Homo sapiens: one gene and its partner. The protein of the gene in region 2 interacts with the protein of the main gene of each other region in a biochemical or structural test. Each region holds a gene or a part of one and is shown on either strand. Other genes may lie near its edges.

What was found.
Region 1: the proteins of LIG1 (region 2) and MIER1 interact in a test that uses a peptide from one of them, tested with the Homo sapiens proteins (one study listed by BioGRID).

The regions. Positions count from the first base shown.
Region 1 is NC_000001.11:66,969,977-66,977,013, forward strand, and holds part of MIER1 (mesoderm induction early response protein 1), read left to right. Parts: intron 1-831; coding exon 832-983; intron 984-1,678; coding exon 1,679-1,760; intron 1,761-2,920; coding exon 2,921-3,015; exon of another isoform or gene 3,016-5,542; intron 5,543-6,618; coding exon 6,619-6,746; intron 6,747-7,037. UniProt on the Homo sapiens protein: Transcriptional repressor regulating the expression of a number of genes including SP1 target genes. Probably functions through recruitment of HDAC1 a histone deacetylase involved in chromatin silencing.
Region 2 is NC_000019.10:48,118,343-48,125,379, forward strand, and holds part of LIG1 (DNA ligase 1), read right to left. Parts: intron 4,977-7,037; coding exon 4,832-4,976; intron 4,675-4,831; coding exon 4,592-4,674; intron 2,981-4,591; coding exon 2,828-2,980; exon of another isoform or gene 1,825-2,827; intron 849-1,824; coding exon 795-848; intron 1-794.

The sequences.
Region 1 (7,037 bases), on a different chromosome or scaffold from region 2:
CAGTCTTTGAAGCTATTCTTTGAAACACTCTCTTCCCTTAGCATCTGTGATGTTACATTCTTGGTATTTCTTCTGTTTGTGACTTTTGAATTTTATCCATGTTTTCTTCTTATCATTTGGAATTCCACAGGCTTTGTCTTAGGTCATCCTCCTTTCATTACTTTTTGAGTTTTAATTAGATTTAGGCTTTCATCTTCTTATAATGGAAATTATGATGAAACTTAAATACCTTTAAAAAAGTAATGACTTGTTTTTGTGAAAGTGATTTATATACATTATACAACTCAAGCATCACAGAAAACATAAAGTAAAATTTACTTCAAATCCCACCACCAGGAATTAAGCAGTGTTAACATTTGGTGAGCATTCTTCTAGACATATTTTCAAAAATAATAGTTACAGTTACAATTACAGGATTTTAGTATGTGCCAGAATGATTGTAAAGTGCTTTAAATCCTTAAAACTATGTGGTAGAGTTATTGTTACCTCCTTTCACAGATGAGACAGAAGGGAAATAATTTGCCCAAGGTCATCATACATGTAATAAGTGGTAGAGATGGTATTCAACCAAGAGAGCTTGGAATTTGGTAAACTCAAGATAAAGTCAGACTGGATCTGCAGGGGGCATAAAGTGGTACCTCCTCTCTGTTTAAATTGTTTAATTTACTTAAACTATAGTTTTTGCCCAAGAACGAAGTCAGGCAAGTAGTAGAACCACACTGTACCTCAGTTCTCAACATTTGGCTCTGAGTTGTTTATTTAGTAATATGTTTTAACACAAACTCTATCAGTTTTTAGAAATTTGTTTAACATTGTCTTTTACTAATTTAGTATATGAAAATGATGATCAGCTCCTGTGGGACCCTGAGTACTTACCAGAAGATAAAGTGATTATATTTCTTAAAGATGCATCTAGAAGAACAGGTGATGAGAAGGGTGTAGAAGCAATTCCTGAAGGATCTCACATAAAAGACAATGAACAGGTCTGTGAAAGAAACAACTGTTAGAACTTTGCCATACACATTTATACATGTAAATGCTGTCACTTGCATTGTTGTTATTCTGTCCACCAAACTTTTTATAACATTATTGACAGGGAATCTGAGGTTATAATCCCTGTAAGATATCCGTTGTTACCACAGTGACTTCATTGGTGTGAAGCTCAAAAACGAAACAAAAACCTGTTTTATTTTGCCTGTATATACTTTTCATTAGGCTTTTTAAAATTCCTTTGGCTATCCCTAAGAATCTGTGTATATCAAGTTGGAATTCTCACCTCGGATTATCTTATGTACATGGTAAGACCAGTGCCTACCATGAACCTATCTTTTTTACCTTTTTAATCATTGTTTTTTTCTGATTTGTTTAAAATTATAGGAATCTCAAGAAGCCACAAAGAAGGGATTTTCATTGATATAAAATGAATTCTTTTTAGTCCTAGGGATACTATGGCCACCAAGTTTATGCATATCCTACTTTGTACATATTTAAAGGTAGTTGATTTATCAGGATCGAATTCATATTTGTTTTTCTTTGGAGTTCTCTATATATAACATTCACTAAAGTTATTTGCCCTCAAAAAGGATGAAAACACTGGATGTTTGAAAAACTTTTAAGAAATTGTAGCATTGAACTGTTTATAGTCCTTGTCACATATTCAAGCCTTTTATTTTTCTAGGCTTTATATGAATTGGTTAAATGCAATTTTGATACAGAAGAAGCATTGAGAAGATTAAGATTTAATGTAAAAGCAGCTAGAGGTAAGTATAGTTTTTATTCATTTTCATGATTTGGCAGAAATTTTAAAATTAAGCTTTTCAGTTTACCTAGGTATAGCCTAAACTTAATAATACTGATTTTTCTGAGTTTGATAAATATTTACAAAATACCAAGTATTACTAAACAAATCGTTACGGGGAGTGGGATTAAGATTGTCCCTTCCTCCTTTGTGGGAAAATACAGTCATGTAAGTAAAAATGTAAAAATTTATACTGCCTTATGCATTCAAGGCATATTTATAAATATTTTCTTATTTGATCTTGATAATTGCCCTATGAACTAGGTAGTATGACAGATAATACCTTTACTTAAAGGTAAAAATTGATGAGCCTGAGATCTCTGAACTAAAGTAACTTGGCGAAAGCAAACATAATTCATCAGTAATGAAGCCATGACTAAAATTTGGATTTTTCTTTTTTATACTATATCTGGCTCCTACCCCCCTTCACTAAGAGTACTACATATATATATATACACTACATATATATATATATATATATATATATAGATATGTAACAAATGAGAGATATTTATTTAACAAAAATTTGAGTGCCTTCTGAATTCTGAGGATGTAACTATAAACAAAGTCCCTTCCCCTCGTGGTGCTTAGAGCTTAGGTAGGGAAACTGGAAAATAGCTGATGAATTCTTCAAGGAAAATTAGAGGGTGCTATTGAAACCTGTAGTAATGGGACTTAACCTATTTGCAGAGAGGGTAGTGCTTTTAGGGAAAGCATTCAGAATGAAGTAATATTTTTGTTGGGATGCAAAAGAATTATCTCAGTGAAAGGGGATGAGGCAGGAAATAATTCTAAGCAAAGGAGAGACACCATGCACAAAGTCTGAAGTAAGAAAGAACATGGCAAATTTAAGGAATTGAAAGGTGGCTGAGATAGTTTGATCAGTAAGAATTAAGAAGAAAGTGGCACAAGTTGAAGCTGGAGAGGTAGGGACCAAATCATTCAAAATCTTATTAAATAAGGAATTGTTGTCACTTTATCTTTTGCAACAATTAGTAATAGAGCTCAGGAGTAAAATGCTTCCCTCATTTTTACGAGAAGGTTAAGTTTTCATTTGTAATTTTGTTATATGCAATAATTGGGGGAATATTGCTTAACAGTTTGTTCCTCCCATCTTGTCAGAGGAATTATCTGTTTGGACAGAGGAAGAGTGTAGAAATTTTGAACAAGGGCTGAAGGCCTATGGAAAGGATTTTCATTTGATTCAGGCTAATAAAGTAAGTAATGATAATCTCTTTTTTGCAAAAAGAAATTTAGTTGAACAACTCAAATGGTCATGTATCGTAATTTGTTATATTGTCTAGTGTTAAAGGTTTCATAATTAATATGACAATATTTTGGTATTTAGTGAGTAATTATAGTAAGGCTGCCTATACTTCCTAACCTATAATTACCTGTTGGTGACTGTTTTCAGTGCATCATATTGCAGGTGTTTAAGAATTGTACTCATTTACAAGCATGTTAATCAACTTCTAGTTGGGGTGTGTATGTGCAATGCAATTCTTTATAGCTGTTTTCCACAGTCTGTGACTGTTTTATGGAGGGCCTTTGAAATGATTTGGAAACTTTAAAGCACTTTCAATATGACATTATTTGCAGTTAAAATATTTATTACATTTGCTTAAGTCCTGAGTGGTCTAAAATCAAATACTTAATATTTAACTTAGTTTTAGTCAACATTTAATTTTCTAGGAGCTTCTGTGTCGATAAATCAGCTTTATATTCTTATAGTTATAATTTGAGGATTTTATTTAACATAATCATTTATCATTTCATGTTGATAATATCAGTCATGTAATTTATACTCCAAATAGCTTTATAATTACTTACAGATTTGTTTTGGGGCTTAATTCTTATAACTGAAATTAGGTATGATTTTTAATAGTAACCATATAATTATATAGAATAGAAAAATGTGTTGTTTCCATGAGCAACACATTAGGACAACAGATTAGGACAGGCAGAATTAAAGTCTTGGAGATTAAATGTAGGAAATTAATTCCCAGGCTTATGATTATCACATTATTTTTAGTTAGTAGAAATGACAAGGGTATTGGTTTATGTAATTCCTTAAAGATAGCTTCTAAGTTTTGTGTCGTAGCTTGTCCAGGACCTTGTTGAAAGTACCTGGGCTTATGTCTGAGGCTCTGAATAGTCTTCTGCCACAGCTCTCTTTTTATACATTTGGATGTGATTGGATTGTATCCAGTTGATTTTTTTGACACATATTTAATATTTTTTGTTATTAATAAAATATTTACAAATCCTGTGGGTTCATTTCTTAAATTTTGTCGTGCATTAACTAGTTTATTCTTATTTTTATTATTTTTTTTTTAAGTGGGAACTGGGCAGTGAAGAGCCCCACTCCCAATTAGTTCATTCTTAATTATTTTGTTGAATGTTGGCAGTTTACCGCAGATAACACTAATAGAGAAATGTTTAGTTTTAGCATTTAGGATAACTTAGAAGACAATGTAATTAGTTTCAAAAATGTATACCCCTAATGTTGTGTTCATATCATCTGATAACCTCAAATATAGTTAACATTCAAGAAAAGGAGTGCATTATGTGACTGGCCGTGTATGTTTTTGATTAAAAAAGAAAAAAGTTCGTTGTTTCATGGTTGAAAGGGACAACATTTTTGGATGAGGTTTTTTTTTTGTTGTTGTTGTTGTTGTTTTTTAACACTTCTGCTTGAATTAAAACACTCTTAACCAAACCATGCTGAATTACCTAAGGAAGGGACCCCTGGAATGATAGCTTATGTAACAAGCAGCAGCAACAACCCTGACCAATATGATTTTTTTAAAGGAGTTAAGAAATTATAGGTGACTTGAAACTTAGAGCCAAGTAACATAAGTATTAAAAGTATAACCTTGATTTCTCATAAATATTTGGGACAGTGGCATTTAAATGTTACAAGGTAGAAGTCAGCTGACCTCTACATAATACACTAAATTACTCTAGTGCACAAAAAGAGGACAGTAATTCTTTAAAAGGGAGACGAGTACTCTAGTGAGAATATCGAGTTTGTTTTTATGTCTGGAATTAAAGTTCAGATCTTAATCATAAGTTCTATTTTGAGGGCTTTTGTTGAAGATTTTTCATAATCTTAACTTTGCATGCCCCAAAATGACTTTATCTTTTTGCTTTCAGTAAAGTACAGTTGACTTAGTTCGAATCTATCTAGAAATAAGATCCTAGAGGAGACAAAAAACAGCTTGAGAGGATGATTTTTTTTAAAGTCCTGATTGCTGTCAGTCTCAGAGCAATATGGATCAGAGCTGTACAGTGCAAACGGGAAGAAAGCAAAATATATGTTGGGTAAGGGAGGGTATCATCAACATTTGTCCTTTAGGTGCAATCAGTGCTACAGAATATTTACTTCAAGAGCAGAAATTTATGGGATAAAGAAGTATATTGCATCCAGAACACATACAGACACTGGATTTCCTTTTAAATGGTCAGTATTGCCGGTGCAGTGGCTCATGCCTGTTATCTCAGTACTTTGGGAGGTTGAAGCATGCAGATTGCTTGAGCCTGGGAGTTCAAGAACAGCCTAGGCAACATGGCAAAACCCCATCTCTACAAAAAATAGAAAAATTACCTGAGTTTGGTGGCATGCAATTGTGGTCCCAGTTATTGAGGGTGCTGAGGCAGGAGGATTGCTTGAGCCTGGGAGGGCAAGGCTGCAGTTAGCGGTTTGGTGCCACTGTACTCCAGCCTGGGCAACAGAGCATGACACTATCTCAAAAAAAAAAGAAAAAGAAAGGAAAAAAGTTATCAGTATTTTATTTATATACATCAGCCCTAAATCCTCAGTATTTTATATATATACATCAACCCTACCACCAGTTCTCCCGGCTAAGTAACAAAAAGGAATTCTGTCAGCATCATTTAATTCCGTAGGCATTTAACATTATGTGAGGGGAGCCATTCAGTTGCACAAATAGGTACAGCACAGTAAGCCGCAAGAGTAACTTAGTAAACAAAGCATTAGCATTATTATGATACTTTTAACTCACTGTGGCATCTTCCCAGACTTTCTAGAGAGTAAATTAACTGAGTCTGGGTTGCTGTTGGGACTAGTAAGAGAATCTTTCAAAAGGGAATTTAAAGATACGCTCCCTAGGTACCCGTACTCTGTGAGTAAAAGTATTAGCAAACTGTTTATAACATTTATTTTAACATGAATGCCACTTCCAGGCCTTTTTTTTGTGTGTGTGTGTGTGAGACTGAGTCTCATTCTGTCACCCAGGTGGGAGTGCAGTGGTGTGATCTCAGCTTAATGCAGCCTCTGCCCCCACCCCCACCCCCTGCTGGGGTTCAAGTGATTCTCCTGCCTCAGCCTCCCGAGTAGCTGGGATTACAGGCACCTGCCACCATGCCCGGCTAATTTTTGTATTTTTAGTAGAGATGGGGTTTCACCATCTTGGCCAGGCTGGTCTTGAACTCCTGACCTCGTGATCCACCCCCCTTGGCCTCCCAAAGTGCTGGGATTACAGGCGTGAGCCACCGTGCCCGGCCAACTTCCAAGCATTTTTAATACAGGAATATATTTTTCTAGTAAATTAGGATGATGGTAGCATTTTAAAAAGCACAGTGCTGTATATCTGAAGACCTGTTGCCAATATATTATTTCTCTTAATAGATGTTTAGAAAGAATAGCTTTCAACATAGCTGCTACACTGTTGTATGTTATATATAGGATTATATTTCAGTTAAGGACTAGCCAAATTTATTTTCAAACTTCAGATGTTTATCATGAAGTAACTTTGTTAAAAAGGAGATTCTTAAAAGCAAGCATTTGTTTCTTACAGGTCCGAACAAGGTCAGTTGGTGAATGTGTAGCATTCTATTACATGTGGAAAAAATCTGAACGTTATGATTTCTTTGCTCAGCAAACACGATTTGGAAAGAAGAAATATAATCTTCATCCTGGTGTAACGTGAGTTAATTTTTTCCTTAAGAGCTATATATACATTTTTGCTAAGCTTTTCTAGATTTTTCTTGAGTTAATTATTATTTTGATAATCTTGCTTTTATATACTTGATCTTAACCAGAAGGCCGAGAGTGATAAAATCTTGCTTTTATAATACACATTAAACTTTACCATCTATTATATCTTCATAAATAAGGCATTTAGACTTTTCAGTGTCTTATGAAATATTGTAAACTACAGTTCATATTATGTATGAGACAAGCATATCATTAAAGCAAGATTTAGAATGTATATTT
Region 2 (7,037 bases):
CTGTTCTCGTGATAGTGAGGAAGTCTCACGAGATCTGACGGCTTTATAAAGGGCAGTTCCCCTGCACACGCTCTCTTGCCTGGCGCCATGTAAGATGTGCCTTTGCTCCTCTTTCGCCTTCTGCCATGACTGTGAGGCCTCCCCAGCCGTGTGGAACTGTGAGTCCAGGAAACCTCTCTTTATAAATGATCCTTTTTTTTTTTTTTTTTTTTTTGAGACAGAGTCTCACTCTGTTTCCCAGGCTGGAGTGCAATGGCATGATTTCAGCTCACTGCAACCTCTGCATCCTGGGTTCAAGCAATTCTTCTGCCTCAGCCTCCCAAGTAGCTGGGACCACAGGCATGCGCCACCACGCCCGGCAAGTCTTGGGTTATTTCTTCATAGCAGTATGAGTATGAAAATAAACTAATACAGATCCAATATGTAGGACAGACACTCATGCCTGAAATGCCTGTGACCATGACAACATTCATTCACATTGATCAGGGCTCACAGGCACTTCACAAGGAGCAGCTATGGCACCTGCTGTGTCCTTTGGCTAACCCCTGGTGTGAATGAGGCACAGGGCTTGGGGAGGTGAGGCTGCTTGAGCAGGGTCACCAGCTAGTAGCCGGCAGTGCTGAGACATGAACCTGGAGATGCTGGACTCCAAAGCCAGCTCCACTGCCTGCTGCCCTCCTGCCCACACCTGGAGCCCCAAGATGGTGGAAGCCAAGAGCCCTGCATGGAAGGACTGTGCTGTCAGGGGCAGGGGGGAGAGGGGTGGAGGCTGAGGCGCAGCCGCCATGGCTCACCTTGAGGCTCTGGTGATGCTCCTCCAGCTCCTCATCACTGAAGCCAGTTCCAAGCTGCAGGGAGGAAGCGGGAGGTCAGAGGCTCAGCCAGCCACAGGCCCAGCACTTGCTCCTGCCATCTAAAGCTGTGTACACTCATGGCCCCCACCCCACTCTGGTCTACGCAGTATCCACAGAAAACCAGGGAAGTAGGGAGCTGGGGGTGCGGAGCATCCATCCAGAGACTCCCGGGTGGGAATGTTCTCCCAGCAGGCCTGCCGTGAACCACTCCCTGTCTTCTGCTTTATGGAGAAACTCTTGCTGCTTCCACTGTCTCCCTGGCCCCAGGAAGTCACTCCCTTATGCTCACCCACATCCTCACTGCCCAGTAACTGGCTGTCCTCACTTCCAGTCTTTTTTTTTTTTTTTTTTTTTTTTTTTGAGACAGGGTGTAGCTCTGTTATCCAGGCTGGAGTGCAGTGGTGCAATCTTGGCTCACTGCAACCTCCACCTCCTGGGCTCAAGCAATCCTCCTGCCTCAGCCTCCCAAGTAGCTGGGACCACAGGCATGCACCACCACGCCTGGCTAATTTTTTAAAAAAGTTTTTGTAGAGGTGGGGTCTCACTATGTTGCCCAGGCTGGTCCCGAACTCCTGGGCTCAAGTGATCCTCCCACCTCAGCCTCCCAAAGTGCTGGGATTACAGGCGTGAGTGGCCATGCCCAGCCCATCTCCAATGTTAACACTGCCAAGAGCTTCTTTCACCTACCAAAATAGGAAAGGCTAAAAATTAGCAGTAATGCTGGATGCTGGCAGATACGCAGCAAGTGGGCAATAATCACCAATATAAACGTCACCTGGAAAGCCCCTTTTGCATTGAGAGTCTTAAGGATTCTTTTTGCCTTTTGTCCTGACAATAGCTCATTTAAAAATCTATTCTAAATAATGCAAAATGGTGACAATGTAGATTGGTGGCCAAAACATTTGTGATTTATAAAAGTCACTTCTGTCACTGATCGTTTAGGTTAACGGACACTAAGTAATCACATTACCCATCAGAACAAAGCCGGCAACAACTTCCCCACACAGCCACGGGGAGCTGGTTCAGGACACAGCACTATGTGCTATGGGGCACAGCACTTGAAAACTCTTGTGCGGGCATTCAGGTCCTGTTGCCATATTGCTTAAGGGCATATACAACACTGAAAACAAAGTACTTCCAGGGTAAAAAGGCAGAAAAGAAAATTACTCATAGAGAAGGATCACAACTTTGCAAAAATGTAAATAAAACATTCCCTCAAATGTCACTACTGCGTGTCTCTGGGTGGTACGATTCTAGGTGATATTTTGTTCTGTTTCTGTGGCAAAAGACCCAAATTTGTTGGAGAGGGGAATATAGGAAATACGTAAGAAAATCTAGTCCAAAATGTGCACAGCTTTAAGAAAAACTTTAACTTGAAAAAAAGTAAATCACTTTACATTTCCCAGAATTCCTTGCAGCTAGGGGTGAGCCATGGAGCAAAGTGATGAGCAACAGAACTTGAGCAGAAGGTGTTCACTGGCTGAGGCTGACTCAGGGTCCAACCCCCTTTGCTCTTCCCTGGTGCGTGGAGCAGGCATGGCCATGAGGGCTGGAACTCCTGCAGCCACATTGTGATGATGAGGCCAGAGGCACATGGCAGAAAAAAAAAATGTGGGGACAAAAAAAAATGTGGGGAGAGGAGGAACCTGAATCCCTAATGGCATCAGACTGCCCCCTCCACACTTCTCATTTCATAACAAAAAAATTCTTTTCTTATGTGAGCCACCACTATTTGTAGCTAATCTCAATCTCTCACTGACACACATTCCTGACATCTTTCTATCCCAGCCTGTTTTTCTATATGAAGCAAGAGTTGCTCATAGAACCAGAAAAAGTAAATAAAAACTGGGGAGAACGGATCCTTCACAGGGGGATGTGAGCACCCCTCGGTCTGGGTTGTGCAATAGGAAATACCCCCGGGAGTCTAATCTCCTTCCCTCCTGCTTCTGCCATCAGCCCCAGTTCCCCAGGACCTTGCATATGGCCTGCAGCTCCTCACTGTCCTCGTCGTAGGAGGCCAGCAGGAAGCCCCCGTACCGGCCGGCCCGCTTCCCCCGGCCCAGGTAGGCGCCGATCACCACCAGGTCCAGGGTGTCACCCACGCCATCAAGGTAGTCCTTCTTCAGCTGGGAGAAGGGGAGGCAAGAGATGAGAAGGGGGAGCGCCCAAGGCGGGGCCCTCACTGCTGGGGAGGGGCTCCTCAGTGGACTGAGGAGGGACTAGAAGTAAGTCTGAAGGGAACTTCCAGAAGGAACCCCAAGGATGGCCCCTGGGAAGAGACTGGACATGGGAAGGGTTTCTAGGTTTAAATAAGAACAAATGGGGCCGGGCACGGTGGCTCATGCCTGTAATCCCAGCATTTTGGGAGGCCGAGGCGGGTGGATCACCTGAGGTCGGGAGTTCGAGACCAGTCTGACCAACATGGAGAAACCCCGTCTCTATTAAAAATACAAAATTAGCCGGGCGTGGTGGCGTGTGCCTGTAATCCCAGCTACTTGGGAGGCTGAGGCAGGGGAATCGCTTGAACCCGGGAGGCGGAGGTTGCAGTGAGCCAAGATCGTGCCATTGCACTCCAGCCTGGGCAATGAGAGTGAAACTCCGTCTTAAAATAAATAAATAAATAAATAAGAACAAATGGGAAACGCAGGCGGGATCGATGGGACCTCAGGAGTCAGCCTTGCCGCCGTCTTTCCCTCAGGACAGAGACGTGGCCAACTCACTCTGGCCACTCCTCCAAAGGGAGAGCATTTTCCCATTCGTTCAGAAACGTTCACTAAGTGCTAACCATGTGCCAGGCAGAAGCTCAGCCCTGGGGGCACAACAGTGCTATTTCCTGAGACAGGAAAGGTCTGTGCTGGAGGGAAACCAGCCACAGACAGACATAAGTACACAGGAAGAGCTAGTCAGCAGGCCTGGCCGGCTCAGTGCCACAATGCCTCCCGCTCCAGTCCCCTTGTCCACCCCTCACTGCCCCTCTCCACTCAAACATCCATCAACTCTTACTGATGACAGGCTCCTGCTCGCTGGCCCTCAACACACCCGTCCTCCACTCGAGGGGAAACCCCAGGAGCTTCGCACAATGACAACCTGTGACTCCCGGCACGGAACCCCCACTGACTTCCTGAAACCTTCAAGAGGAAGATCCAGTTTTATCTCACAGTGGCCCCAGGTGCTGCCTCATCTGGGGCCTGCTCCCCACTCTGAGCTCACCTCCCGCCTCGCCTGCCCTTGCTCCCTGCACACGCAGAGGCTGCTCCTCCCTCAGGGTCTCTGCACCGGGGGTTTTCCTCCCTAGTGCTCTGTCCCTCACTTTGGGAAAGACTCTTCCTGATCATCCGGGGCACTCCCAGCCCCGCCTTGCTGGCCCGGAGCTGACTTGCTTTTCTTCATGGCGCCCACTCCTGCCTGACTTTCTCTTATTCATGTCCTGGCTTAATTCCTGCCCAAGAGCCTGGCCCGACACGGGCGGCAGGCTCAGGAGAGAGACACCTCATCACGCTGCACCTCGTGGGATGTGCGGTGCTTGGGCTGGGGCTGTTCTCCATCAGAACTCGTGAGCAAGGGCTCGCAGCAGGGAGAAGGTCTGAACTCAGTTGCAGCAGGGGGCTGGGGTGGGATTGTGAAAAGGGGCCCTGAGCTCAGACAGGGTACACAGTGGAGGCTCGAAATCCACTGCCTAGCTGGGACAGACCTCCAGACCCGGGGTGGAGAAGGCCCAGTTGGGGGTCGAGAATCACCTTGAGCCAGTTGTGCGATCTCTTGGCGATCTCGTAGGTGGCATCAACATCCAGGGTCTTCACCATCAGCCCCTCGCAGGAGTCTGAGGGAGACACAGAAGCGTGGTCCTTGGGAAGCCCTGGCTCACAAGCGCCGGAGCAGGCAGGATTCTGGTCAAACGGTCCAGGACTGGGGACAGGCTGGGAGGCCGGGGTCAGCGCAAGCTGCAGACCTCAGGAGAGAAAAGTGAGCACCCTCACCTTTCACTGACTGCTCCAGGAACTCGGCGATCTGCTCGATGTCCTTGGTGTCCAGGGAGGTGGCGAAGACAAACTCGCCCTCTGTCTCCACAAAGTTCTCCCGGAGCAGCTGCCGGCGCCGGGAAAGGGGCTCACGTACCAGGGACTGCAGGGCCGGCAGGGAGAAGAGAGATGAGACATCTTTGTGAGAATAAAGACAATAAGCCCTAAATGTGAGGCGAACAGGACATGTGCGGGTCACAACTAGTGACAGGGTTCGTGGAAAGCCTTGAGAGGGAAGAACCCTGATGTCAGAAGGATTCTGAGAGCTTAAAGCATGGGGCTAGTCACTGGCAAGAGGGCCCGACACCATTTAGAGTCGGTGACTTCAGGAGCATCAGACGGGGGGCTGCGGCCTTGCTGGAGCTTGAATTAACACTTTACGGGCATCTCATCAGTTTTGTTTTTTGTTTTTGTTTTTTTGAGACGGAATCTCGCTCTGTCGCCCAGGCTGGAGTGCGGTGGTGCGATCTTGGCTGACTGCAGCCTCCGCCTCCTGAATTCAAGCGACTGTCTTGCGTCGGCCTCCCGAGTAGCTGGGACTACAGGTGCACATCACAAGAGATCCACCCACCTCAGCCTCCCAAAGTGTTGGGATTACAGGCGTGAGCCACTGCATCCAGCCTCATCCCCAAGATAATTAAAAAAAAAAAAAAAAGTCCTCCTTTCCTTAGAATTCCAAAAGTTTTCACTGAGTTTTTCCAGCACATTTACAGTTTTGTGTTTTGCTTTGAAATCAGTTCCAGCTGGACCTTGCAAGAGTGTGTGTCAGAGAGGAAGGAGGTGATCTGAGTGTTTTTAAACAAAGGACAAAGCAGTTGTCTCCACATGTCAACACTGACTAATCCGTCTTGTGGCTTTGAATTGCTTTTCTCTTTTGTTCGATCGGTCCCCACCCACGCGCAGTGTTTCTGGTCTGCCCTTTGCTCAGGGCTTCTCTGTGATGATGTTAAACTACCTTCACCACTTGCCCTCCAGGGGGACATTCACGTGTTTTCCATGGACAGCTTTTTTCTGTTGTAAAATTGTGCTCATGAACATTTTGTATGAAAAGATGAGAGAGAGGAGCCACAAGGGTTAAGCAGGTACAATTTATCTGGGGTCAGACCATTTCAGGTTTACATCCCAGCCACACGCTTCCTAGCTGGTGACTTCAGGCAAGCGTTTCCCTCTGTGTACCTCAGAGCTCCCATCTGTAAAATGCAGCAATACCTACTCAGGGCACGTCTGGGAAGATCAGCTGAGCCCGTGCTACCCAGTGTAGCCGCCACCAGCCATGTGTAGCAATTGAGCCCTTGAAATGTAGCAAGTTCAATCGGAGATGTGCCAAGGGCAAAACAGTCACTGGCTTTAGAAGACTTAATCCAAGAAAAGAGTGTAAAATTCCATGTTAATAATTTCTTATATTCATCACACATTGAAAGGATAATATCTTAGACATTGGATTAAAGAAAATATGATTTTATCTGTTTCTTCTTACCTTTTAATATGGCTACTAGAAGCTCTAAAATTAGAAATGTAGGCTACTGCAGTGGCTCATGCCTGTAATCTCAGCGCTTTGGAAAGCGGAGGTGGGTGGATCACCTGAGGTCAGGAGTTCAACATCAGCCTGGCCAACATGGTGAAACCCCGACTCTACTAAAAATGCACAAATTAGCTGGGTGTGGTGGTGGGTGCCTGTAATCCCAGCTACTTGGGAGGCTGACGCAGGAGAATCACTTGAACGCCAGAGGCGGAGGCTGCAGTGAGCCAAGATCACACCACTGCACTCCAGCCTGGGCGACAGAGACTGTGTCTCAAAAAAAAAAAAAAAATCATGGGGATGAGGACACATTAAACAGAAAAAAAATGATATACTTGACTACATAAAAATAGTTCATCCATGTTCAACTACTACTAATAAAAAAATTTGTAAAAGTAATAGCTCAAACAAGTCCTATACAACAAAATAGGCCATCAATAAATTTTAAAGAAGGAATATTTGAAGGAATGAGAAGAAATATTTGAAATGCTCATGGGAGACAAAGGAACCAGCTGAGCAGGGATGATCAAATCCTGCAGAAAAACCCACAAAGTATCCAGTGTTTGGAAAGCACCTGATACTTGACTTTCCTCTCCCCAGACATCACGGGAAACAAAAATCAGACTCTGACTGTCTTCCTACAGT